7 linked regions of the Homo sapiens genome follow. The protein of the gene in region 6 interacts with the protein of the main gene of each other region in a biochemical or structural test. Each region holds a gene or a part of one and is shown on either strand. Other genes may lie near its edges.

Region 1 (3,500 bases), on a different chromosome or scaffold from region 6:
CACAAGTATAGACTCAGTTCGGTCTGTCCTTGCTAAAAACAAAGTTTGTTTGTTGGATGTTCAGCCTCATGTAAGTAAACAATGAGCTATTCAATACCCTTCTGACCCATGTCATCTACAGCACCTCATGTGAGCATTTCAGTATGAAATAATATGAAGTCAACTCACTTTTGGCATATATGTGGCTTTTCTGAGATGGCAAAAGCATTTAAATATAATTGGAGACATCTTTGGTGGAGAAAAAGAAAAGCCCATAATATTATTAGAAAGAGAAGTGGAGGAAGCTCCAAGACCTGTGTTTGTAACTCTTATTTATATTCAGTTTTTGTCAAGTAAAGCAACTCTTAGATGTTTCTACATATTCTGTATTTTTAAAAAATACATCACATTGTTACATGCATAATGCATTCTTATGTGTTATGTATTAGTAACAGTGTCTATAATTTTTAACGATGGACATTTTGGTTCCAAGTCTTTGACTTTGGTTCTGTATATATCCTAGCAAATAACCCCCCACTAGAACTGAAGGGCATTTTGCAGGAAATGTACTGAATGAAAGCCCCATTGCAACTGCCATGTCTGCACCTGTCATCCTGGAAACTCCATTATGAACATTCTGAACTGAGAACTTCAGTGGATGAGGCCATTCAATTCCCTATCAAACCATACATCTTCCAGCAGATCCCCAGCCCACAGCATTTTCCTCATCCCCCAGGGACCATGGTTTCTCCTTCCACTGATGGCTGTACCCTGGGGTGCAAAACCTCCAAATGCTAGAATGACCTGCGGAAGCCCTTTGGACCTCTAAAGGAAGATGAATCTGGAGTAAAAGTGTTTCAAGAATCAGGAAGGCTGCCTCCTGACTTGGGCACTGTGTTAGTCCCTTGTTGCACTGCTCTGAAGAAATACCTGAAACTGGGTAATTTACTAAAAAAAAAAAAAAAAAAAAAAAAAAAAAAGAGGTTTAATTGGCTCACTGCTCTGCAGACTGTACAGGAAGCGTGATGCTGGCATCTGCTCAGCTCTGGGGAGGCCTCAGGAAACTTGCAATCATGGCGGAAAGCAAAGGAGGAGGGTTGAGCACTTCACATGGCCAGAGCAGGAGGAAGAGAGAGAGAGGAGCGAGGTGCCACACACTTTTAAACAACAGGGTCTCACGAGAACTGACTATTGTGATGACAGCACCAAGGGGGATGGTGTTAAACCCCGGGAAAATGCCCCTATGATCCAGTCACCTCCCACAGGCTGCACCTACAGCAGTGGGGATTACATTACAACATGAGATTTGGGTGTGGACACAGATCCAAACCATATCAGGCACCAACAGTGAATGGGACAGTCCTGCTTATGCAGAGCCTCTCTGCTGGTGTCCCAGGTCCAGTTGCTGTCAGACTCCCACAGTGTAGTATCAGCTCATGAATAATAACTTTCAGCTCTCACCCTCTGTAGATAGGTCCCCAGAAGTATAGAGTATAGAACATCAAAGATTTGATGAAGGAATCTAGACAGGCATCATGGAGAGCAGGAGGCTGCCCTTGTAGGGTACTCTGAAGGATAGGGTGAAAGAGGAGAACTCCTGCCTGAAATCAGAAAGGGGCTTAAAAGGGATGGTTGGAAGACATTTGTGGACAGAAAGTTATTTAACTCATCACACCTTTGGAATATTTGATCTAAAAACCAGTTTTGTGATATTTTTAGTCACTTCTGTTCAATGTTAATTATGATGTATTTCAGAACATTTTAAAATGCCAAGTTACATTCCCCAGCTTCTTTTCAGAAGTGTTTGTTACATTTAATTGTCAACAGTTAATTGAATAATAATATATTGAAATGACTACTGACCTTAAAGAATAATTTTGAGGAATTTTCTCCTAGAAAGAAAATTCAGTAATTCATGATGCTATGGAGAAATGTGAGAAAACTTTCTTTTCTTCCTTGTAGACAGTGAAGCATTTAAGGACACTAGAATTTAAGCCCTATGTGATATTTATAAAGCCTCCATCAATAGAGCGTTTGAGAGAAACAAGAAAAAATGCAAAGATTATTTCAAGCAGAGATGACCAAGGTGCTGCAAAACCCTTCACAGTAAGTATAATGATGCTTGGGGGCCAGGTGTGGTGGCCCACACCTGTAATCCCAGCACTTTGGGAGGCCGAAGCAGGAGGATCATTTGAGTCCAGGAGTTCAAGACCAGCCTGGCCAAGGTGGTGAAACCCCATCTCTACAAAAAATATGGAAATTAGCCAGGCATGATGGTTGGACACCTGTAGTCCCAGCTACTTGGGAGGCGGAGGTGGGAAGATCATAAGACCCCAGGAGACTGAGAGTGTAGTGAGCTGAGATCACACTACTACACTCCAGCCTGGTAGGCAGAGGTGGGAAGATCACAAGACCCCAGGAGACTGAGAGTGCAGTGAGCTGAGATCACACCACTACACTCCAGCCTGGGCGACAGAGTGAGACCCTGTCTCAACAACAACCACAAAAAGCTTGGAGATAAGATATAAGCAGTAGATAAGATGTAAGATACAGTTGTATATATGAAAACATATATACAGCTGCATGTACTTGGGAAGAGTATAATAGATACAAAAATCAGTGAAAGAATTGTATTTAGGTACATACCTTTTGAACAGTTACACTTCTTGTGCTTTGGTGAATGGATCTTCATATTCAATTGACTCAAAACTATTTTGTATACTATTATGTGAACATTTCATACTATTGTAGGCTGAACATTTGTATAAAATCTAGACCAATTAATTTTCAGAGCAGCCTTATTTTTAAAGCTAAAAATACCATCAGTAACTGTTACTCATTAAGAGTCCAAATGAAAAATTTAATAATGTGCCTTGCTTGTCTCCTTGTGTCAACAATTATATTTAGCACAGCAAAAGAAAATCACTATTTTGGGTATAGGATAAGTAGACCAATATTATTCAGCAATAATATTTGTATTTTCTATGAGTGTTATTGGAAATGATGATTGTGGTATATTCATGACTATTATGGGTTCTGGCAAGACCTTTTATTGTTTTTCTTCTTAATCTTAATATATTCTACCTTTGGACCAAAAATCAAAAGCAAAGAAATTAAATGTGAAGAGCTTATTTTTTTCTTGCCCCTCTTAATTAGCTCATCATTAACTTTAGTTTATATTAATTTATGAACTGTTCATTGTGGTTACAAAATACAGATCACATTTCTGATTCCCAGTATATTTGATAAATACCTTTTTTTACATGCCAACAGTACATATCCGTTCTGAGTAGGTACTGTCATACAATGTTAGTTACTCAGGCTCTTGATCAACACTAAAATTAAATTTTCTGTTATTGTGAAATCTTATGTGACAATGAAATGCAGACTCAAATTATTTCAGCATGTTGCAACATAAAGATTTATTGTACTATTTAGACATTTTAAAGGTTTCTCAACGAAGATAAGAAAGGATCACATATTCTTAGGATTTGGCTCTCTTACATTTATGTTATATAGCC
Region 2 (3,500 bases), on a different chromosome or scaffold from region 6:
ACCCCAGCTGGTTCTGACCCTTGATTCCAGAACTCTCTGACAGGTCTCATAGCAATTCTGTCAGGAGTTTTAGAATCTTATTATCACTCTAGAATCAGACTTCTCTGCTCCGTGATTCCAGAACATCTTAATCACAATCGCGTCAGGCAGCTCTTCCTGTGGTTCTAGAATCTCCTTCAGTAGTTCACACCTTTGGCTACACCAGGGATTCTAAGAATTACCTGACCAGTCAAGGAACAAACAATTCTGTTCCAGGAGAATTCTAGACAGTTCCAGAATACTCCCAACCCAGCCCAGAACTACATAAAGCTTTACTCCTGGCTGGGTGCGGTGGCTCACGTCTGTAACCCCAGCACTTTAGGAGGCCGGGGGGGGGGGGTGGATCACCTGAGGTCAGGAGTTCGAGACCTGCCTGGCCAACATGGCGAAACCCCGTCTCTACTAAAAATACAAAATTAGCTGGGCGTGGTGGCGCGTGCCTATAATCCCAGCTACTTGAAAGCTGAGGCGGGAGAATCACTTGAACCCAGGAGGTGGAGGTTGCAGTGAGCCGAGAGAGATCGCACCACTGCACACCAGCCTGGGTGACAGAGCAAGATTCCATCTCCAAAAACAAAAAGGAAAAAAAAAAAAAAGCTTTACTCTCATGGTTCTAGAATTCCCTGAGCTACCCAGAGCCAGACAGCTCTGCCAGTGGCCCTAGAACATTCTAACCAGTAACTACGGCTCTTTGGTTTAGAACCACGGGTGTAGGGCCCCGTTCTGGACACCACTAAGTGAAATTCACCCTACACCACAGTCGGTTCTGCCCACTATCCTTCAGGATCTAAGCATTCTGGAACAAGAGCTCCACTCTGGGGTTCTAGAGAGATACGTCATTCACTGTGGTAGCCACCAGGCACATGTATCTATCACAGACTTGAAATGTGGCTCGACTGAATAGAGATGTAAATAGAAAATACACACTAGATATTGAAGATTTGGTATGAAAAAAAGTAATTTAAGGTCAGGCATGGTGGTTCACGCCTGTAATCCCAGCACTTTGGGAGGCAGAGGCGGGCGGATCACCTGAGGTCAGGAGTTTGAGACCAGCCTGGCCAACATGGTGAAACCCCGTCTCTACTAAAAATACCAAAATTAGCTGGGCATGGTGGCAGGCGCCTGTAATCCCAGCTACTCGGGAGGCTAAGGAAGGAGAATCACTTGAACCCAGGAGGCAGAGGTTGCAGTGAGCCAAGATTGCGCCATTGCACTCCAGCCTGGGCAACAAGGTGAGACTGTGTCTCAAAAAAATAAAAAAGTAAATTAAAAATATTGATTGTATGTTGAAATAATATTTTAAATATGTTAGCTTAATTAAAATGTTATTAAAGTTAATTTCTTAGCCAGGTATGGTGGCGTATGCCTATAGTTCCAGTTACTCAGGAGGCTGAGGCGAGAGAATCGCTTGAAGCTGGGAGGCGGAGGTTGCGGTGAGCTGAGATCGTGCCACTGCACTGCAGCCTGGGCGACAGAGCGAGACTCCGTCTCAGTTTAAAAAAAAAAAAAGTTATTTCACCTGTTTTTAATTTTTTAACGTGGATAACTACAAAATTTTAAATCACATATGGCTCACGTTGTATTTCTATTGTAGTTCCATCTAGAACTTTCTGATTACACTATAATTGGACAGCTCTGCCCAGGGTTATAGAACACTAGATAACTATTCCCTCCATGGTTCTAGAATTCTCCAGTCTGAGTAGAACCAGATGCCTCTGTTCACCAATTCTGAGCATTCTCATCAGCCCAGATTCCTTTACCCTAGAAACAGACAAAATGCCAAGCCCTGGAACTCCCTAGGTGTCACAGCTCTGCTCGATTCTAGAACCTTCTTAGAGCTATAGGTTCAAACCAGTTTTTCTCTCTGCAACCACAGAACTGTTTTTTTTTTTCTTTTTTTTGAGACATGGTCTCACTGTCACCCAGGCTGGAGTGCAGTGGCACAATCTTAGCTCACTGCAGCCTCAAGTGATCCTCCCACCTCAGCCTCCCAAGTAGCTGGGATTATAGACCCATGCCACGTGCCTGGCTAATTTTGGGGGGGGATTTTATTTTTGTGGAGACAGGGTTTTGCTGTGTGGCCCAGGCTGGTCTCGAACTCCTGGGCTCAAGCGATCCTCCCACATCAGCCTTTCAAAGTGTTGGGATTACAGATGTGAGCCACCCTTCCCGGCCAGAACTTACTATCTGACCTATATCCTTAGCGAAGTGTAGAACAGAGGCTGGCCGCGGTGGCTCACACCTGTAATCCCAGCATTTTGGGAGGCCGAGGCGGGTGGATCACAAGGTCAGGAGTTTGAGACCAGCCTGACCAAGACGGTGAAACGCCGTCTCTACTAAAAATATAAAAATTAGCTGGGCACGGTGGCGGACGCTTGTAATCTCAGCTACTCAGGAGGCTGAAGCAGGAGAATCACTTGAATCCGGGCGGCAGAGGTTGAAGTGAGCTGAGATTGCACCACTGAAAAAAAAAGTCTAGAACATTCCAGAGGGCCAGAAATTGTTCTTCCCATGCTTTTAGGGCAGGGCTTGGCAAACATTTTCTGTAAAGGGCCAAAGAGTAAATATTTTCAGCCTTGTAGGTCACAAGGTATCTGCTGCAGCTACTCACCTCTGCCATTCGAACATCAGAGCAGCCATGGACAACACATGAATAACCAAGCATGATGTGTACCAATAAAACTTTATTTATGTACACTGAAATTTGTTTTTCTTTTTTTAGAGACAGAGTCTCACTCTATTGCCCAGGCTGGAGTGCAATGGCGTGATCTCAGCTCACCGCAACCTCCGCCTCCCGGGTTCATGTGATTCTCCTGCCTCAGCCTCCTGAGTAGCTGGGATTACAGGCGTGCACTACCATGCCCGGCTAATTTTTGTATGTTTAGTAGAGACGGGGTTTCACCAATGTTGGCCAGGCTGGTCTCGAACTCCTGACCTAGTGATCTGCCCACCTTGGCCTCCCAAAGTGCTGGGATTATAGGCGTGAGCCACCGCGCCCAGCTTATGCACACTGAAATTTGAATTGCATTTTTTTATTTTTGAGACAGAGTCTCGCTCTGTTGCCTAGGCTGTAGTGCAGTGGCGTGGGGTGATCTCAGCTCACCGCAGTCTCGACCTCCTGGGCTCAAGAACTTCTCCCGCCTCAACCTCCTGAGTAGCTGGGACTACAGGCATGCACCGCCACACCTGGCTAACTTTAAACATTTTTTGTAGAGATGGGGTCTTGCTACGTTGCCCAGGCTGGTCTCCAACTCCCGGCTCAAGCGATCCTCCTGCCTCAGCCTCCCAAAGAGCTGGGATTACACGTGTGAGCCACCATATCCAGCCTAGCATATCATTTTCACATGTCAAGAAATAGTATTCTTTGGCCAGGCGTGGTGGCTCACGCTTGTAATCCTAGCACTTTAGGAGGCCAAGGCGGGCGGATCACAAGGTCAGGAGTTCAACACCAGCCTGGCCAA
Region 3 (4,265 bases), on a different chromosome or scaffold from region 6:
GCACCTACTTCTGCCCACGCTCAGATCCCTCCTAAGAGGGCTGCCACAGGCTGGGACCAGAAGAGGACTGACATTCTGGAGGCAGGGGCAGCCAGCCCCAAGCAGCTGGACACAGCCTGGCTAAGGTCTGGGCCCGTGGGGTTTGCCAAGGCTAGGAGGGCTCAGGGGAGCCCAGGAGGCCTGGGTTAGGACGTTCCCCATAGACTTTGCCTACACCCCCTCCCAACTCCCACATCCGTTCATCCAGATCTCCCCAGGGAGGGGTAACTGGCAGGGACTGGGGGTGTGTTGAAGAGCACCTAATGACTCAAAAGTCCCTACCTCCTTTCTCTGCCACCCCCTTCACACAGCCCTCACCCCCACCTGCCCTCACTCCCAGCGGGGGAGCCATGTTTAAAGGCTAGGAGAATGACTACCCTCGCTAGGCTGAGATGCTGTCCTGGCACCCCCCAACCCAGCACCTCACCCCTTTGGACCATGGCAGGGGCTGGGTGTTGGTGACTCACCGCTGCTGTTCAGGACTCTGGCTGAGATTCTTCCAGCGGAATCCTGAGCCCTGGGCAGTAAGATGGTCAGAAGGAGCAGGTAAGGCGGGACTGTCCTTGAGCAGACACTGAGAGGTTACCCTGGACACAGCGACCCACTTCCTGTCTGCCCCTTCCCAGCTCCACATCCACACCTGTTTTGGTGCTGGTGGAACTATTTGCCAAGTGCCACTACTGGCACCACTCCTCAACTTTCTCTACAGGCCTTACCTTCATACCTGGGACTGCAGGGACACAACCATCCTCCTGGGTTCCAGATCCATGAACCTCTAAGCCCTTGCTGGTTTCCACACTGGCAGCAGGTGGGGAGATCATTATTCTAAAATGGTCTCCACCCCTAGGGCCCATGTCTGTAGAGGCTCAGGCCATCCAGACTCCCAAAGCTGAGGCAGGGGCTCTTCCCCAGTGGGATTCAGAGGATAGGTGTCCCCTGGGCTCACCTATCAAGGTGCTCCGAGGACCTTCTGCCAGTTGGGTCTCTCCATCTAATTTCTCAGCTACAGACAGTGGCTTGGGAGGGCTGGGGTCAGGGACCCTGTCCCGAAGGGCTGGCAATCCCAGCCAGAATGTGGGGTCAGAGGTGCCAGGTCTCCTAAGGTACAGGCCGTTTCAAGGACCAGTTGTGGATCCCAGCTGCAGGTGACCAGCTGTGCCCAGCTATACCTGGGTCTCTCTCTCCATTGCCATATATTTTGTGCTTTCTGGGACAAAACATCTTAGATGTCAAACTTGTCAGCAAGTCTCACTAAAGGACCGAGACTGGGAGTTCTTTAGGGGTGGTGGTGGGGGGTGTGGAGGAAGGATGAGAGATGAAGGTTCCTGTCTCTTCAGGGTCCTTGATAAACTAAAGTAGTCTCTCACCCTCCCTAACTTTTTGGTCCTGGGAGGAGGTCCAGTCCCAGAGCAGCCCTTTTCTTTGGAGCCTGCACAGCCCAGGGCCTTTCTGTTCTGTGCCTTTGCTAACCCTCCCCCAAAGCTGCCCAAGGCAAGGAAGAGAAGGTTCAGAACCAGATTGGCCTCAGGGGTGGGGACAGTTCCCAAACGGCCAGGGAGGAAGGACTGGGCAGCACAGAGAGACCCCTTTGTCTTTCAACATGATTTTCATAAAATGCAAATTCTCAACAAGCTGTTCATTGTGTGGGGGCTAGCTGGGGGCCGGGGCGAAGGAGGGCGGCTGGGTGAGGAAAGGCCACCAGGCCCCTCTTCTTAACCTGGTGTTGTGTAGGTTCTGAGCCTCAGGTCTCCTGGGGCCAGAGGAAGAGGCTGGCAGAGGGGACTCAGAGGTGGGCGCGGCCCGCATCCTTCCTGCCCCGCGGGCGCCCTGCGACCCCTCCCACTGCGTCCGGTTCCGACAGAAGTCCAGGGAGCAGTGGCCCTCGCGCCCCGTACGTCAGACGTGGGGCCAGGCGGCAGGCCCCCAGCCCAGGAATCGGGGAGTCCCCTCGGAAGGGTGTGCTATCCGGAGTCAGCGGCTCCCCACGCACTTCCTCAGAGTGAGAACGCACGCGGCGCAGCCACCGGCCCGCTTCTCCCACCGGGGGCTCTCGGACCTTCAACTTGCCTGGGGCTGTCTCTGTCCCTCGGGCGAGGGGCTCCTGGGGACCCAGGACACCTGGCCACGGGGAGGCGGGGCATGGGGGGCAGAAAGCCAGATGGAGCGGGTAGGAGAAGGGGGGTGCTGGGAGGAGTCAAGGAGGGAGAGAGGGGGCGTGCATGGGGCGCGGAGTTAAGAGCCACCGAGCCTGGGCGCGGTGTGCAGGCGAGGGCCACGGCCTTCGCAGCAGCGGGGAACGCGGGGAGTCGAGGCACCCAGCGGGCCGGGGAAGAAGGTGGGGGACTCCGCGGACGCCGAGGAGAGGGCACTGCGGAGTCAGCAGGCCCTGTAGGGAGTCGGAGAGGGGCTGAGCAGATCCTGAAGGCGGGCGGGGGACGCACCTTTCGGCGGGGCAGGGTGCCCCCGGACACGGCGAGCGCGCGGTACAGCTCGGCAGGGTGATAGTCCTCCAGCGCCGCGTACAGCTCGTCCGCTGGGGGCCCAGGGGTGGCGGCTGCGGCAGGGGGTCCCGGGGTCGGGACCGGAGCGGCGGGCGCGACTTCCGAGTCGGGAGTCCGGGCGGCGGGGTCCGGGGTGGCCGCCGCCTCCTCCTTCTGCTGCAGCTTCCTGAGTCGGCGGAGGGTCATGGCTCCGGCGCCGGACGCCCCTCAGAGACGGCGCTGGCTCCCCTCGGCGGGGCTGGCGGCGGCTGGGGGATGCCAGCCGGGCGGGCCGCGGGTCGCCTCCCTTTATAGGCTCCGAGAGCGGGGCGGGGTTGGGGGCGGGCGGGGAGCTGCCTCGGGTGGCCTCGCCCCCAGCACGGAGGACCCTCCCCGCGAGGCGCCGCCGCCCTGGAGCCCCGCCCACGGCGCTCGACGGCCGGGGAAACTGCGGGAGCTGGGCGCTCAGTGGGGGAAAACGAGCCGCGGACGCGAAGGGGCGGGATGAGGCCCCCGGGGCGGGGCTCGGGGCTCGGGGCTGCGTGATACCTGGAGGGGTCTGTGAAGGGACATTGCGCAAGGTTTGAAATTTAGGGACGAATAGCTCTGGCGATTCATGGAGTGGGGCACGGTAAGAGGTCACTGTAAGAAGCCTGGGGAGTCGGGGAGGTAGGGAGAGTCACGGAGATCCAAGGGGCTGCAGGAGACTCCAGGGCAGGGAGAGCGGCAGCGGGGCTGCGCAGGAGTAGGGGTGGAGGCCCGATGGAGGAGGGAGGAGACTCCCTGAACTCACTGCGCAGAAGCCCCCAGGGAGGGAGAGGGCCCAGGATTTTCCCTTGACGCAGCTGCCCCAGAAGAGCTGAAAGAGGCTGCCCCCTGTTCGCACGTCTAGGAAGAAGGGAAGAGGTGGAAACCCTGAAAGCAGTAGGCTTAGTTCTGGCCTGTCCCCTCCAAGGGGCTTGAGTGATCCCTGCTGGCAACACCTTTCCTCAGCTCCTGATGCCGGGGTCAGATCCCCCTTCCCAGGAGACAGACGCTTACTGTGGACTTGACTCAGGAGGTTGGGATGAGCCCAGGCTGAGTGGGAGTTCAGGGCTGGGGGGATGGCCATGCTCAGCCGTTCTCTGACCCCATCTTAGGGACCATCCCCCAGGCTGTTACCATGGCTGCCAGGCGGTAGGAGAGGCGGGAATGGCCCAGCCGAAGTCTCTGTCGTCAGTGGTGCCCGAATAAGAAGTGAGAGGAGGAAGTGGAAGGCAGCGTCTGGTGTCTAAAGAGCGGCTAGCCACCACAGGGCGTCAGCAGCACAGGCTGGGGACTCCATGTCCCAACACCCATCGGCCAAGAAGCAGAGGCGGCAATGCGGTGCCCTTGTCTGTCCCCTCCCTCCTCCCCCAGTCTTCCCAAATCTGTTATGCCTTCACAGTTAACATTTATTGAGCACTTAGCATGTGCTATGCACACTGTTTGTTCTGTGTGTCCTTTTACATACATGCATTAACTCACTTGGTCTTCATAACAACCCTACGAAATAAGCACCATTATCCTCCCTTACAGATGAGGAAACTGAGGCCCAGAGAAGATAAGTAATTTGCCCTAAGTCACTCAGCGGCAGAGCTGAGATTCAAAGCCAGGCAGCCTGGTTCCAGAGCCTGCAATCTAACCACTCTGTGATGTTGTCCAACATTTAAGCCCTGCTGTGTGCCAGGTACTGGCTGGGCACTGGGGTTACAGAGGCTCTTGGCC
Region 4 (3,500 bases), on a different chromosome or scaffold from region 6:
TTACAAATCCTTTTAAAGACACACTGAATTTGAAGAAAATTTAGACTAGGGTATTGTTAATTGAAAAGCTGCTTTTTTTTTTCTTTCTGTTTTGAACTTCAATGAAATACAAAGTACAGTCCTAGAGAATAGTGAACCATGTTCTAGGTTTTCTACTTCTGTTAATGTGCCTAATTCATTTGCAGAGTGAGAGTAGAAAAAGCTTTAGGCACAGACAGGAACCTTGAGCTTCCTGCCTCTACCACCTGTCACAAATGAATTTGGATGAAACTATTTTCATGATCCCTTTCAGCACCAAAATTTGGGGTTTCTTTAAGGTTTAAGACGAACGCATTAGAGTAATGAAAATGCCTGTCTGACTGGGATGTTTATATTTTTCATGATTATGTCATTTCTTTGCCTTGGCCTATAGTAAGTTTGTATGTGAATGCTTTGCATGAGGGTCATAGCTACTTGGTTTACCTTGAAATCAATGATTCAGAAATTGCTTTTTGTGTTCCAGTTGCATGTAGCTGTGACTCCTTTTAAAAGTGTGGTAACAATGTGGTAGGAATTTAAAAGCTTCCCAACTTTAGACATAGATTATTTTGATCCTTTCTGAACTGGATTCATAAACTTTGGTTCCAAAGAACAGCAGCTGTAGAAGGGAGCCAGATCTTGACTCACTGTTGAGGTTCTGCTTCTTGAGAGATTTCATATTTAGTGCAACCCAATTCCTTGGTTCGTTCTTCTCCCCCAGTACTAGATAGCCAAGTTGGGTGGTAGGAAGGAAGAAAATATGCAGCAAGTCGAGTCTAGTTGTCATGCTCCTTTGGGCCAGAAAGGACCTTAAAGATTGTCTCGTCATGTTGTTCCTATACCTTTTGTTTTCGTCTACCTGTAAAATGAAAAAAAAAAAAAAAAGCAAATATTAGGGATTGTCAGATATGTCAGCATTTAATGTTGCTACATAAGTGTGTTTAAAATTGACAACAGCAGTTACTACCTATTGTCAATGCATTTCGTCAAAATCCTTTTGATGTACCAAAAAAGAGAAAAGGTGGGGAAAGGGGGAAGAATATGTATGCTGTCAGACTTAAAGGAGAGTTCTTCCTATCCAGAGAGGAGCTGTGTTAAAATTACCCCACTCGTGGATTTATATCTATCCCCACACAGACACTTTTTTCTTTTGCATGGGTCAATGAAAAATTCACTAAGGACCGGGGTTTAGAAATCACTGAGTAGCTCAACTAACCCTTCTTTGATATTTGGATCCTTTTATATAATCTCTGTAAGTGGTCTTCCGGTAATACCTGAACATTGCAAGTAACGGGTGGTGATTTCCACCTTTTAATGGTTTTGAGTACTAGAAAGTTTTTTGGCCTATAGAATTGAAATCTGATTCTGCTTGTTTATTCAAATTCTACTGCCTTGGTGGCCTACAGAACAAATCCTTCAGTCTCTGTCAGAGTTGGGCTCTTGGTGTAACGTGACCCGTGAACATGACCTGTGTAGAGTACAGCAGGAGTGTCTTGTCATAGGTTGCATGTTGCTTGCACTGATGTAGTCCAAGTTTGCATTTACTTTTCTGGTGGCCAGACTCAACGAGTTTCCTTTTCGCTAAAACCTGCCGAGCCGTTAATCACATGCTGCCATTGAACCTCGTCTTTCCATCTTGCGCTGATGTCATTGCAAAACCTAACATTTATTGCGCTGTGGTTTTGCTTTATTTTAGCTGATTCTTTCCATCATGCTTTTTAGAATTTGATTATATTATTTGGCACCTTTACCTGTCCTCCCAAAGAAATGCTGTCTGTACATTATTAGATCAGACTCTTTTATATCTTTACTTAAGCCGGTGATGAAATTGTTAAACTGGCTGAACAACACGAAGTGTGTCTCTGGAAGCTTCCCTCGAGGCTTACAAGGAGTCACACTCTCGGTTATAGTTAACTACTAATGCTCTTCATATCTTATAACTAGCCCATATAGCTCCACCTTTCCACATGGATATCCTGAAAGAGTGTGTCAAACCTCCTTTGCTGGTTCTACTGACCAAGTTATGCTGAGTAATAATGAGTTCATTTTCAGTGTGTCCCTAGTAACGAGCACTCTCTTCTGCATATGATTAAGAAAATGTGTTAAATGACTGACTGGATTGAGACACTAGGGTCACACTGTGATCTGTGACCTCCGGAGGCCTTAGGAACTGCAGTGCTTCTAGGAAAAATCAGAATATTGTTGGACTTTCTTCAGCTTATTTTTTGGTTTGGTATTCTCTTGTGTTGAATTGCTTTCAGATAGTGGGGAAGAACACCACAGTCTCTTCCGGTTTTGTTTTAATTGGTTGATATACTTCTCTTCCTATTTTACTAATAAACATTTAGCCAAAAGGGGTGTCTTGAACTCTGCCCATTAGATTACTCCATATTTTTCACTTCTACATATTTGCTTAATCTTCTGAGAAATATCCCCATTTAGTTGAGTTCCTCAAGAAATCAGAACAGTCCGAAGTAAGCTATCTGGTAGTTTATTCAAACTCTTAAGTAAAAATATCTAGGTAAAGAGCCAGTGTTAAAAATTGTTATTGTGGAAAGTAAGAACTCCTGGGTGAATAAAAGATTATGTCTGCTGAGATGAACTATTGTGTGGAGTTTTAAAAGAAAGTTCTGGTTAATGCTTAAGACATAGTGTCCTGTGAAGTCAGCATAACTACTTTCACTGTCTTCTGGAGGTGGTTTTGATAACACATTTGGTTCCTTGTTGAACAGTGGGTATTCACATTGTTCAGGAATAGCTTTGGGATACTGTCCTCTCCGTATTGAAGTTTCTAATAAGTAATTTTAGGAATTATAGTTTTGATTCTTTGTACAGGGCAAATGCTACCTGTTTCAGGTGTTTAAATGGCCTAATGCAAGAAACAGTGGTTTCTTTTTAGCAGGTTCTCAAGGTTCTCAAACTTTTTTCAACGTGCATCCCATCTATACACAATTGTCTAAGTGTTCATGTATGTATGCGTATACATGTATACATATCTGCATGCACGTTTGTGTGTGTGTATATGTATAATATATCTGTATGTATAAACATATACTTTACTGTGCTAAGATATTATGGACATAAAACAAATGTACATTTTAAGAAGATTAATATTAAAAATAAATAGATGTAGAAGTATTTTCTCTGCATCTCAAGGGCATTTGTATCTTTGAAATGTGTGGCCCCTGTGTAGAGACCACTGTTGTACTATCACTGGTTAGAGTTTATAGCAGTTGAGAAATGGAATTTCTAGGGAGCCTGTAGGGTCTTGTGAGGCAAGCGGAAGACAAACTCCACTCTTGATGGGCCTTATATTTACTGTGTATTTATTCTTTTTCCCGAAGACATTTCTGACTTTGGCCTGTTTTCTTCCAGAATTGCTTGTGGGTCTTGGTTTGGGGTTTCATTTATTGAGGGGTAGGAGGTTAATGTAATGGCGATGCTATTCTCCTTAGAAAGTTTCTAATTGAACTCAGCTGTTT
Region 5 (2,921 bases), on a different chromosome or scaffold from region 6:
TGTTTCATGCAGCATAGTGTCCCCGAGGTCTGTCCGTGTTGTAGCACACTTCAGACTCTCCCTCCTCTCCAGGGCTGAGTACTGTTTCCCTGCAGGCCTAGAGCACATTCTGTTTCTCCGCTAGTCCGTGCTGTCACCCTCGGCTGTTGTGAACACTGCTGCTGTGAACACGGGTGTGCACGGCGCCTGTTTTCCATTCTGTCCAGTCTCGTGGTCACAGGCGCTCCCAGGCCCTCCTGTCCATCTGTTTGGCGTCACTTTTAGGCTGGAATGGAAGCCCCCACCGCTGCACTCCAGCCTGGGTGACAGAATGAGACCCTGTCTCCAACAAAACCAGAACCAGTATATTTGGCACAAAATGCCCTTACGTCACTTGGCGGGGGGGGGATGTAGGAATAAAGTGACTCTTCCCTGTCGATGTAGACCATTTGGGCATCCGGCAAACAGAGCCTTCCCTTGACAGAACAGATGCCCCACCTTTCTGGTGGCCAGGGGACAGGCTGCCTCTCCTTTCCCGCCCGCCCATCAGCTAAGTGCCTGTCTTCCAGGATGGTAACCAGGCTGTGCCGTAGGAGGCCAGGTGGCAGTGGCCTTGGGCTGTGTCACCAGTCTCTAGCCTGACCACAAAGGGAGCGGCCCTGGGGGAGGTGCAGCTGGGGGACAGGTTCCACCGTGGGAGTCAGAAAACTTGGTGGTTCCCCACACACCATGGCATTAACTCTCTTGTTTTAAAGAAACATACTGCATATCATAAGGATCTCTGTCTGTGAGTCAGCGAATTGCACGTGCACGTATTCATCATGTGGCGCTTTTCCCTCTGCATGTCCCATCTTTGGGGACGTGGTGGAGCGCCTGTCGGGTGTGGCGGGAACACGTGTGCTGACCTGGCCATGTCTGCTTAGATCTGCAGCCTCATGAGAGGGGGCATTGCTGAGCGAGGGGGCGTCCGTGTGGGCCACCGCATCATCGAGATCAACGGGCAGAGCGTGGTGGCCACAGCCCACGAGAAGATAGTCCAAGCTCTGTCCAACTCGGTCGGAGAGGTAAGGAGGGACTTTGAGTGTGCCTCTGCATGCCGGTTCCCACGTGCTCCCGCCTGCCCTCCATGAGCCTCCCCCGCTCCAGAGGACACAGGGCATCTGAAGGTCAGCCAGGCTGTGTCTCCCATCGGGGCTGCTGTGACAAGGGTGAATGGAGCGGCAGGTGATGCGGAGCCATCCCGGTCTGGCTCTAACTGAGCAACCGGGAGGGCACAGGCTGCTGGGGGTGCTCCCTGGACACTACTTTTGGGACTGGACCTGTATGTCCAGTTCAGAAGCTCTGCAGGGCACACAGCTCTGGCCACCCTGGCAGGCTTGCCTCTCTGCCCTTGCTGGCCATCCCCTCCCACAGCCAGGCTGCTTGCCCTGTCCCACTTCACTGGCTGAACCCCCCACAGTCCAGTTCTTTCTGGCATCGCTTCCACGGCAGTGTGAGGATGGTGTGGGGGAGGTGCAGGTTTTCCTCCAGAGCTCACAAGGAGGCAGGATCATTGGGAGGGGGGATGGTGCTGGGGAGGTGGCACATACACCGGGGGAGGCCTGGCCAGTGCGCAGCGGGTGTGCGTGTGTGTGTGTGTGTAGTGTGAGCGAGTGTGGGTGTGTGCATGTGGATGTGTGAGAGCATGGGTGTGTGTGGGATGTGATGTATGAGTGTGGGTAAGTGTGGGTAGGTGTGGGAAATGAGTGTGTGCGTGCACGTGGGTGTATAGGGGTGCATGAGTGGATGGGTGTGGGTGTGTGGCTGTGTGAATGTACCTGAGTGTGCGTGTGGAGGAGTGTGTGTGTGTGGGTGAGTGTATGCGGATGTACGTGTGTGTGTGAGAGCATGGGGTGTGTAGGAGTGCGAGTGTGGGTGTGTGCAGGGGTGTGTGGCTGTGGGTGTGTGTGAGCATGGGGTGTCAAGCATGAGTGTGTATGTGTGCACGGCTGTGGCTGTGGGTCTGTGAGTGGGTGTGAGGCATGGGGTGTGAGGAGAGTGTGAGTGGGTGTGTCTGTGTGTGTGTAGGGGTGTGTGAAGGGGTGTTCAGCACAAAGGGGCTGCAGGCTCTCTGGGAAGCGTGGTGGCCGCACGAGGCGGGAGGCTGAGAGCTGAGGAGCCCGGCCTACAGAGGGGCCCGCTGGGGACCGGGCAGGGAATTTGGGTCTGGGGACAGCAGCAGCAGGCCGGGCCGTCTGTGGTGCTCCCCCTGGTGGCTCTGTGAGGCTGAGTGCGTGGCGACCATCCTTGCAGCCTGTGGGTGGGCGGGTGGGTGGAGGGGTCTCTAGTTCCTGTTCTTCGGATGAGGTCTCCAGGAGCCACATCGGGACACTGGTATTTTGTGCACTGCAGGGTCGGCTGGGAGCTGGGAGGCCTGTTTTCCCTGGACTGGTGGGGGCAGGGGTCTGGCTCAGGAGGAGGAGGGGCCAGGCGGACACCAGCCTCCCTTTGATGGCTTCAAAGAAAGGAAAAGCCAGTGTTCCCAAGTAGATGCTTTGAAGCGGCCGCCCCCACGGCCAGCAGCCCCACACCTGTGAGGAAATCCACCCGTGGAGGAGCGGGCGGGAGAACGGGGAAGAGGCAGGAGGCGGCCGGGGCGTTGGAATCCTTTCAGCCCTGCCGAGGTTATGGTGCCTGTTTCCAGCAGCTCTGAGCCCACGCGGAACATGAGTCGCTGATAAACAAGGCTTGCAGTTGCGAGGGGCCTCGGGGTGGGTTTCTGGTTGAGGAACGCCGGGGAATGGCTGATGGAGGAAGCCCCTGCCGGGAGCAGGAGCAGCGGAAACCTACATCGGCCACACAGATCCCGGCGGGGGAGGGAGGGCAACGCTCAGAAGCAGAGCTGCGCGATGTGCCTTTCTGGGCTGCTCAGCCCAGGGCCCGAGACCTGCTTGCCTGAGGAG
Region 6 (4,090 bases):
AGTGGTTGGGTGTGAGGGTGGATGGCTGTATGGAGGAAGGATGGATGAGTGGATGAATGGGTGAATGGATGAGTGGATGAATGGATAATAGGATGGAAAGATGGATGGATGGATGGATGGATGAATGGATGGATGGATGGATGGTTGGATAGATGGATGGATAAGTGTGAAAGTAGATGATTGGATGGATGGATGAACAGAAGGGTAGATGGGTGGGTGACTGAGCGGATGGGTAGATGAATGAATGGAGGGATAGATGGGTGAATGGGTGGATGGATGGATGGATGGGTGGATGGATGGGTAATGGGTGGGTGGATGGATGGATAGACGAATGGGATGGATGGATGGGCAGATGATTGGGTGGATGGATGGGTGAGTGAATGAGTGGATGGGTGAGTGAAGAAGTGAATGGATAGAGGGATGGCTGGGTGGATGGGTGGGTATATGGTTGAGTGGGTGGATGAACAGATTAATGGATGAATGGGTGACGGGTGCATGGATGGATGGATGGATGGAATGTTGGGTGATGGATGGGTGGAGTGAATGAGTGGATGAGTGGATGGGTGGATAGATGGACAGGTGGATGAGTGTATGGGTGGGTAAAGAAATGAATGGATAGAGGGATGGAAGGGTGGATGGATGGACAGATGGGTGAATGGATGGGTGGGTGGATGGGTGGGTAGATGGATAGATGGATGGGTGGATGGGTGGATGGATGGGTGGGTAGATGGATAGATGGATGGGTGGATGAGTGTGAGGGTGGGTGATGAGTGGGTAGATGGATGGATAGGGTGTTTGGGCAAGTAGGATAGATGACTAGATGGATGAGCAGGTGGGCACATGGCTAACTACATGGATGGGCACACATCAGTAATTTGCCAGAGATTTGCCTTGGGTACACATACATCCTACATGGTCCCTGCAATCCCAAAGATGCAATTTCCCCACCTGTCAAAGGGATCCCCCTGCCTTCCTATCCAGTGTGCCGTGAGAATCAGAGAAGAGGTTGGTGGGAAGGGGCTCTGAGGATCTCCACGGTGAGCCACCTGACATGCTTCTCACCTCCGCACCTCCCAGCCATGGAGTTCATGGGGCCTGCCCTTTCCAAGGTTACAGCCGAGGCTGGTTTGTCACACTGGTTTTTCTGGCTGGAATTAAGGCAACTGTTGGTGAGTCACCCCCACATCATCAGCCTCCTGGGACAGGTGACAGTGGTTTACAGGCACACAGACCTAGATTCAAATCCCAGCTCTGCCCCTCATAAGCTGTGTGACCTTGAGTGAGTCACTTCCCCTCTCTCAGCTTGTTCTGAAATGGGATGGCCTGCCTGGTCTCTAGTGGCCCTTCAGTCCCTCTTCACCCTCCAAGTCCCCCAATCCCCAGCCCCTTCTTCCCCATCCCTCATCATTCTGGGAGCAGAAGCCACAGGCCTACACTTTGCCTCTCTCAGCCATTCCATCCTCAAAACTGATGGGGACACAGAGGTTCAGAGATGGATGGGTGGATGGATGGACGGGTGGATGGATGGACAGGTGGATGAGCTGCAGAGTTTCAGAGAGGTTCTGTCACAAGCCAACATCAAACAGCTGGGGACCTCCACGGCAGGGACTTGGGTCCACCCCCTTCCCCGAGTGAGCCAACACTGTGCTTGGCCCTGCATGCTTGGCAGCTGGCTGCAGTCATCCCGATGCTCACAGCCCTGCCTTGGAGGAGGGACAATTCTCCCCTCTGGACAGATAGGAAAACTGAGGCTGAGAGAAGCTAAGTCACCTGCACAGTCACCTGGAGCTGGAACTCTGAGCAGCGAAGGTCGGATATTGCCACAGGGCCATGGGGAGCCAAGCAGGGGTGGGGGCCAGAAGTGTGGGCAGCAGCATCTATCCACATCCTGCTGGTCACCTGGCTTGCACCAGGCTCTCCCAACCTCGTCCCTCACTCCCTACTACCTGAAAGGGGCATTCCCCAGACCACAAATCCAGCTGGATTTGTTTTTATCTAGGAGGAAGGCAAAATTAGCTCTACTCTACACAGGGGTACTGAGACGTAGAGCAGAGAAGCGAATTTCCTGAAGTCACAGGGCAGGGCAGCACCCTGCAAACAGGAGCCAGCCTTCCGGATGCCCTGGCCAGAGCTCCCGCCACCTGCAGGGGCCACAGCAGCCGCCATGTGAGCTCACCCCGCCAAGTCCCACAAATGCTTCCCGGGGTTATGGTCACAATCCTGGATGGGGAGGTGGGCTGCAGGGGCAGTGCTTCCCCATGACCACGACTGAGGGCCAACAGGCCGGGCTGGCCCACAGCGTCCCGCAGGGGAGGGCAGGGCCTGGGCTGAGGATGGGGCTGAAATCCCCCACGGAACAGGGCAAGGCACTTCCCCTTCCTGAGGCTCAGCTTCCCCTGAAAAATGAGGCTGGTGTCGCCTGCCAGGCCTCTCAGAGGGTGTGCCATGAAATTGAAGGTGGTGACGAAGCTGCAGTCCGGGCACTGGGCCTCGCCCCAGCGGGTCTCTGGGAGGTGGCAGCCGTCACCCTCCCTGGAGAGGCCTGGCAGCCCCCCAGCTGACTGGGGCCTGAAACTCCCCATCTGCAAAATGAGGAGACCCCACACACCTCGGGAGACTGTCACGAGGGTAAGCCAAGCCCTGGCTTCAGTATCTGTCCCACAGAGACGATGCAGCAGTGTGGGTCCTGCAGGCGTTCACTGTGACCGGCGTTCCTGACACCACGTAGGCACTGAAAGCAGAAACAGGCTTCCCAACAGGACGGAAAGCTGACTGTGCCCAAGCCTCCCTGTGGCCTGCTGGATGTCCTCAGAAGCCCCCCTGGCCCGCAAGGAGCCACAAAACGCACAAGGGCAGGATCTGCCTCGCTGTTCCATGCTCGGGATGCGCCCAGCCCACAGAGGATGCTCAGAAAGTGGAAGCTGCAGGAACCTTGAGTGACACTGACCCCTCACATTCTGTGGCGTAAAGATGGGGGCTGGACATATGGACCCCAGAAAGAGGCTGCACCAAGCGGCTAGAAAAGGCAAATGTCCACCCTTAAGCCCTGAGGTGAGGCCAGGTCAGAAGATTCTGGCCCCACAGGGTGGACGACAGTCACACCAAACACCAGGGAATGTTTCTGACGGTATTTTTATCTTGAGAACATCCTTCTTCACAGAGGGTGGGGGCAGGAGGGACAGAGGGTGTCCTTGGCCCCAGGCCCCTGGGAGAAGCAGAGAACAGAGGCCCTGCAGTAGTGCCCTCTGCTGGGGTGGCCATCACAGACACTGCCCCATCCCTGGGCTCCATTAAGTCCCACGAACAGGGGAGACCTGGAGGGTCTTGGGGCCCTTCTAGGACTCCTGGCTCTGCCCCAACTTGCTGTGTGACCTGGAGCAGGGCTCTGTCCCTCTCTGGGTCTCCCTCTTCAAGTCCTCACTGGGCACCGAGGACTTGAAGAGGAAGCATTGGGCGCCTGCCTTCATGGGGCACCCTGCCTCACAGGGCAGACGGTGAGAAGTCAGCAGTCATAAGTCGCTGGGCCCTCTGGAGCCCAGGGGAGGTGTCTAACCCAGTGGCAGGAGGGGTGCTTCCTAGAGGAGTATCTGCCAGTGGGGAGGCAGCAGCGAGCAGCAGGGGTGACAACCCCGCCTGAGACTAACCATAGCACAGTGACACAGCTAAGAGCACCAGAGTCCTGCAGTCTTGGTGCAGATTCCAGCTTCACTCTCCAGGCACTGGGCCTTGGGCAAGACCCACCCTGACTGTGTGCAAACCAGGGGGCTGGCCCAGCTACTCCACAGAAGCCCTGCCAGCCCTCCATTCCAGGATCTAAACTATTCGGGGTTTGTGGGGAAGGTGTGACGAGATGGGCACAGCCTTGACACCATCATATCAGGGAAGCTCAGCGTGTGCAGGCACAGAGGCTGAGGCATCACCCCAGGGGGCCTCAGATGTCATATTAATGAGCCTAGACTTGATCCCAAAGGCAATGGGGAGCCCAAGGGCCATAAGAGAGCTTGAAACTATAAGAGTTCTGGGGCAACAAGGCATGAATTCAAATCCTGTCTCCATCCCTTCTTGTGTGGCCTTGGGCTAGCCACATAAC
Region 7 (3,500 bases), on a different chromosome or scaffold from region 6:
CTATTGTGAGCAAAGCCTTTAGCTCTGCATTGTTAGACAAAATGATGACATAGTTCTTACCTTCAATAACATGCAACTTAAAAGCAAAAATGAAATACAAATGAACACAGAAAGTTGAAAGTGCTAAAACACTGATTCATCCTTTCATTCAGCAAATATTTATTCAGCATCTACTTTATATGACCAGGAATGGATCAAACAATATGTTACAGAAACAAAATGAGATAAGACTACTTATTAAGCACCTACTTATTATGTGCTTTCCAGTCATTTTTGCATTTGATCTCTTGGAACCTAAGCTTTCACTTTTAAACCACAGAATTTTGAGAACTGGAATTTCAGGACATTCACAGATTTCCTGAAGCCCAATTAAGGATCCTCCTAGGATCCCATGTGGAAAAACAACTTTGCAGAAGAGTTTCTTTTTGGGTGTGTGGTTTTGTTTTTGTTTTTTGTTTGTTTGTTTTTTGCTTTCTTTACGAGACACGGTCTCATTCTGTCACCCAGACTGGAGTGCAGTGGTACAACCTTGGCTCACTGCAGCCTCAACTTCCAGGGGTCCCACCTCAGCCTCCCAAGTAGCTGGGCCCACAGGCGCGCACCACCAACCCCGACTAATTTTTGTATTTTTTGTAGAGATGGGGTTTCACCATGTTGCTCAGTCTGGTCTCAAACTCCTGAGCTCAAGCAACCCGCCTGCTCAACCTCCCAAAGTGCTGGGATTACAAGTATGAGCCACCACACCTGGCCTCACAGAAGTTTCTGTGGCATTTGAGTTAGGCCTGGAAAACTGAGTAGAATTTTAATATGCGGAAGCAGAGAATAAAGAGCTTCTCAAACTGATGACTAATTAAAGTATATCAAAGTGCCTAACAATAAACAATTACTTACTGAATGTCTATTACATACCAGTTAAAATACTAGAGGCTGAAGATACCATGATGATTAAGACAGCCTCAGAGGAATTCATTTGACTGACTTACAATCAATTAGGACATTGAGCAAATATCTATGTTTCTAATAAATACACAAATAACTATGTTTCAAGTACTATACTAAGCCCTAGGTATACAGAAGTAAATGGAACAGTCTGACTCTCAAAGAACTTACTAATGAGAGAAACAAGATAATTTTAATATTGTATGCCATGATCGAGAAAAGCAGACGGTCCTAAGGAACCAAGAGAAGTGGCAACTAACTGACTCTTCTAACAAAAAGTGCTAAGTATCAAGTAGATCTTGAATGCCAAGGTCTTCAGGCTTAATTCTATGGGTAATAAGAAGCTAATGAAGGTATATGAATAAGGAGAAATGAAATGAACATTTAACGAGTATTTATAAAGCACTTACCATTAGCCAGGGAGGCAATGAGTTCCAATCTTTTGTTAATAGAACGTGAAATATATTAGAGGTTAAGAGACTGAAGACTGAGTAAATACAGTTAAGATACTGCAACAACCAAGACTAAAGTTTATAAATATGAAATTAAGGTAGTGACAATGGGAATAATGGTTTGAAAGATTTCATGAAGGCAGAATCGAGAGAACCTAATGCCAGACTGGCTAAGGGAGTCAAAGGAGAAGAAGTAAAAGACTACAGATGTGGGCCAGGCACGGTGGCTCACGCCTGTAATCCTAATACTTTGGGAGGCCAAGGCGGGTGGATTGCCTGAGCTCAGGAGTTCGAGACCAGCCTGGGCAACACAGTGAAACCCCATCTCTACTAAATACAAAAAATTAGCCAGGCATGCGCTACTCAGGAGGCTGAGACAGGAGAAACGCTTGAACCTGGGAGGCAGAGGTTACAATAAGCCGAGATCGCGCCACTGCACTCCAGCCTGGGCGACAGAGCAAGACTCCATCTCAAAATAAAACAAACAAAAAAAGCCATGGATATAATTTCATGTTGGATGACAAAAAGGAAAGATACAGAGAGAAGCACATTTCAACACAGAAATTATTCTATTTTCATGATACAGTAAACCACTGACCTTCTGGAGATCCAAGTCCTACATCCTGATTAGAACGTATTCTTAAATACTAGTATAATAAAAACTGTAACAAGCACTGTTCCATGTCATGAGAAAGGGAAAAAAAAGTTACGTGTGAGATGTAGATGCTTGCTGATCAGCTGGGCTCTTACTACCCAAATAAATAGAATTCAACCAGTCTCGACACATACAATGAAAATTTTGGCCTTTTTAAAATCATAAATTATTACAAATTATGAACTTTCAAGGTCACTATCAAATTATAAAACTCACAAATGTTAGGCCGGGCACAGTGGCTCACACCTGTAATCCCAGCACTTTGGGAGGCCGAGGTGGGTGGATCACCTGAGGTCAGGAGTTCGAGATCAGCCTGGCCAACATGGTGAAACCCCGTCTCTACTAAAAATACAAAAATTAGCCAGGCGTGGTGGCGGACGCCTGCAATCCCAGCTACTGGGGAGGCTGAAGCTGGAGAATCACTTGAGCCTGGGAGGCGAAGGTTGCAGTGAGCTGAGGTCCCACCACTGCACTCCAGCCTGGGCAACAAAGTGAGACCCTGTCTCAAAAAAAAAAAAAAATCACAAATGTTAAGAACACAAATGATGAGTCTACGGTGGAAATGTTAAGCACAAAAATGGAAATGTAGAGCTAAGGAAAGAGGTCACACCTAAAGAGACTCAGCTCACTTTACAAGGATGTTCTGTGACACAATGCCATAAATAAAGAGGACTGCAGACCCTTGTTCTACATCCTCAACATCTACAAACAGAATGAGCCTGCTAAATAGAGCACAATAAAGGATCAAGCTAAGGACAGAGGACATGTCCTCAAGGAACATTTCAGGAACAGGAAGAGAAAACACAAGACAAAGACACACAAGAGAGCAGTTAGAGAAGCAGTAACAGAATGGATATTATAATATTAAAAAAGAAAAAAATGTCAACAAGGAACACACAGTCAACAGTGACAAATAGTTCACAGAGGTCAGACAAGATGAGGAAAAGACTATCAGATTTAGTAATTTAAAGGTTCCCAGGACTTTTACATATTTCTCTCTGTAACTATTTCACAATGAAAACTTTTCACAAGTAGCCATGAATTATATTTCAATTTGAAAAACAAACTGGGCACTCATGCCCATAATCCCAGCACTTTGGGAGGTCAAGGTGGGAGAATCACTTGAGCCCAGGAGTTCGAGGCTAGCCTGAGCAACATGGTAAGATACCACCTCTACAAAAAATAAAAAATTAGGCCGTGGTAGTTCACGCCTGTAATCCCAGCACTTTGGGAGGCCAAGGCGGGCAGATCATCTGAGGTTAGGAGCTCGTGACTAGCCTGGCCAACATGGTGAAACCCCATCTCCACTAAAAATAGAGAATTAGCCAGGCATGGTGGTGCATGCCTGTAATCCCAGCTACTCGGGAGGCTGAGGCAAGAGAATCGCTTGAATCCGGGAGGCAGAGGTTGCAGTGAGCTGAGAATGTGCCGCTGCACTCCAGCCTGGGCGAGAG

What was found.
Region 1: the proteins of KCNJ18 (region 6) and MPP7 interact in a test that uses a peptide from one of them, tested with the Homo sapiens proteins (one large-scale study listed by IntAct).
Region 2: the proteins of KCNJ18 (region 6) and APBA3 interact in a test that uses a peptide from one of them, tested with the Homo sapiens proteins (one large-scale study listed by IntAct).
Region 3: the proteins of KCNJ18 (region 6) and TAMALIN interact in a test that uses a peptide from one of them, tested with the Homo sapiens proteins (one large-scale study listed by IntAct).
Region 4: the proteins of KCNJ18 (region 6) and SIPA1L2 interact in a test that uses a peptide from one of them, tested with the Homo sapiens proteins (one large-scale study listed by IntAct).
Region 5: the proteins of KCNJ18 (region 6) and APBA2 interact in a test that uses a peptide from one of them, tested with the Homo sapiens proteins (one large-scale study listed by IntAct).
Region 7: the proteins of KCNJ18 (region 6) and MAST2 interact in a test that uses a peptide from one of them, tested with the Homo sapiens proteins (one large-scale study listed by IntAct).

The regions. Positions count from the first base shown.
Region 1 is NC_000010.11:28,055,065-28,058,564, reverse strand, and holds part of MPP7 (MAGUK p55 subfamily member 7), read left to right. Parts: coding exon 1-70; intron 71-715; exon of another isoform or gene 716-919; intron 920-1,941; coding exon 1,942-2,085; intron 2,086-3,500. UniProt on the Homo sapiens protein: Acts as an important adapter that promotes epithelial cell polarity and tight junction formation via its interaction with DLG1. Involved in the assembly of protein complexes at sites of cell-cell contact.
Region 2 is NC_000019.10:3,755,193-3,758,692, forward strand, and holds part of APBA3 (amyloid-beta A4 precursor protein-binding family A member 3), read right to left. Parts: intron 1-3,500. UniProt on the Homo sapiens protein: May modulate processing of the amyloid-beta precursor protein (APP) and hence formation of APP-beta. May enhance the activity of HIF1A in macrophages by inhibiting the activity of HIF1AN.
Region 3 is NC_000012.12:52,005,481-52,009,745, reverse strand, and holds the start of TAMALIN (protein TAMALIN), read right to left. Parts: upstream 2,801-4,265; 5' UTR 2,727-2,800; coding exon 2,481-2,726; exon of another isoform or gene 2,091-2,480; intron 1,925-2,090; exon of another isoform or gene 986-1,924; intron 557-985; coding exon 507-556; intron 1-506. UniProt on the Homo sapiens protein: Plays a role in intracellular trafficking and contributes to the macromolecular organization of group 1 metabotropic glutamate receptors (mGluRs) at synapses.
Region 4 is NC_000001.11:232,623,634-232,627,133, reverse strand, and holds part of SIPA1L2 (signal-induced proliferation-associated 1-like protein 2), read left to right. Parts: intron 1-3,500.
Region 5 is NC_000015.10:29,112,974-29,115,894, forward strand, and holds part of APBA2 (amyloid-beta A4 precursor protein-binding family A member 2), read left to right. Parts: intron 1-902; coding exon 903-1,043; intron 1,044-2,921. UniProt on the Homo sapiens protein: Putative function in synaptic vesicle exocytosis by binding to STXBP1, an essential component of the synaptic vesicle exocytotic machinery. May modulate processing of the amyloid-beta precursor protein (APP) and hence formation of APP-beta.
Region 6 is NC_000017.11:21,691,233-21,695,322, reverse strand, and holds the start of KCNJ18 (inward rectifier potassium channel 18), read right to left. Parts: upstream 2,801-4,090; 5' UTR 2,609-2,800; intron 1-2,608. UniProt on the Homo sapiens protein: Inward rectifier potassium channels are characterized by a greater tendency to allow potassium to flow into the cell rather than out of it.
Region 7 is NC_000001.11:45,806,612-45,810,111, reverse strand, and holds part of MAST2 (microtubule-associated serine/threonine-protein kinase 2), read right to left. Parts: intron 1-3,500. UniProt on the Homo sapiens protein: Appears to link the dystrophin/utrophin network with microtubule filaments via the syntrophins. Phosphorylation of DMD or UTRN may modulate their affinities for associated proteins. Functions in a multi-protein complex in spermatid maturation.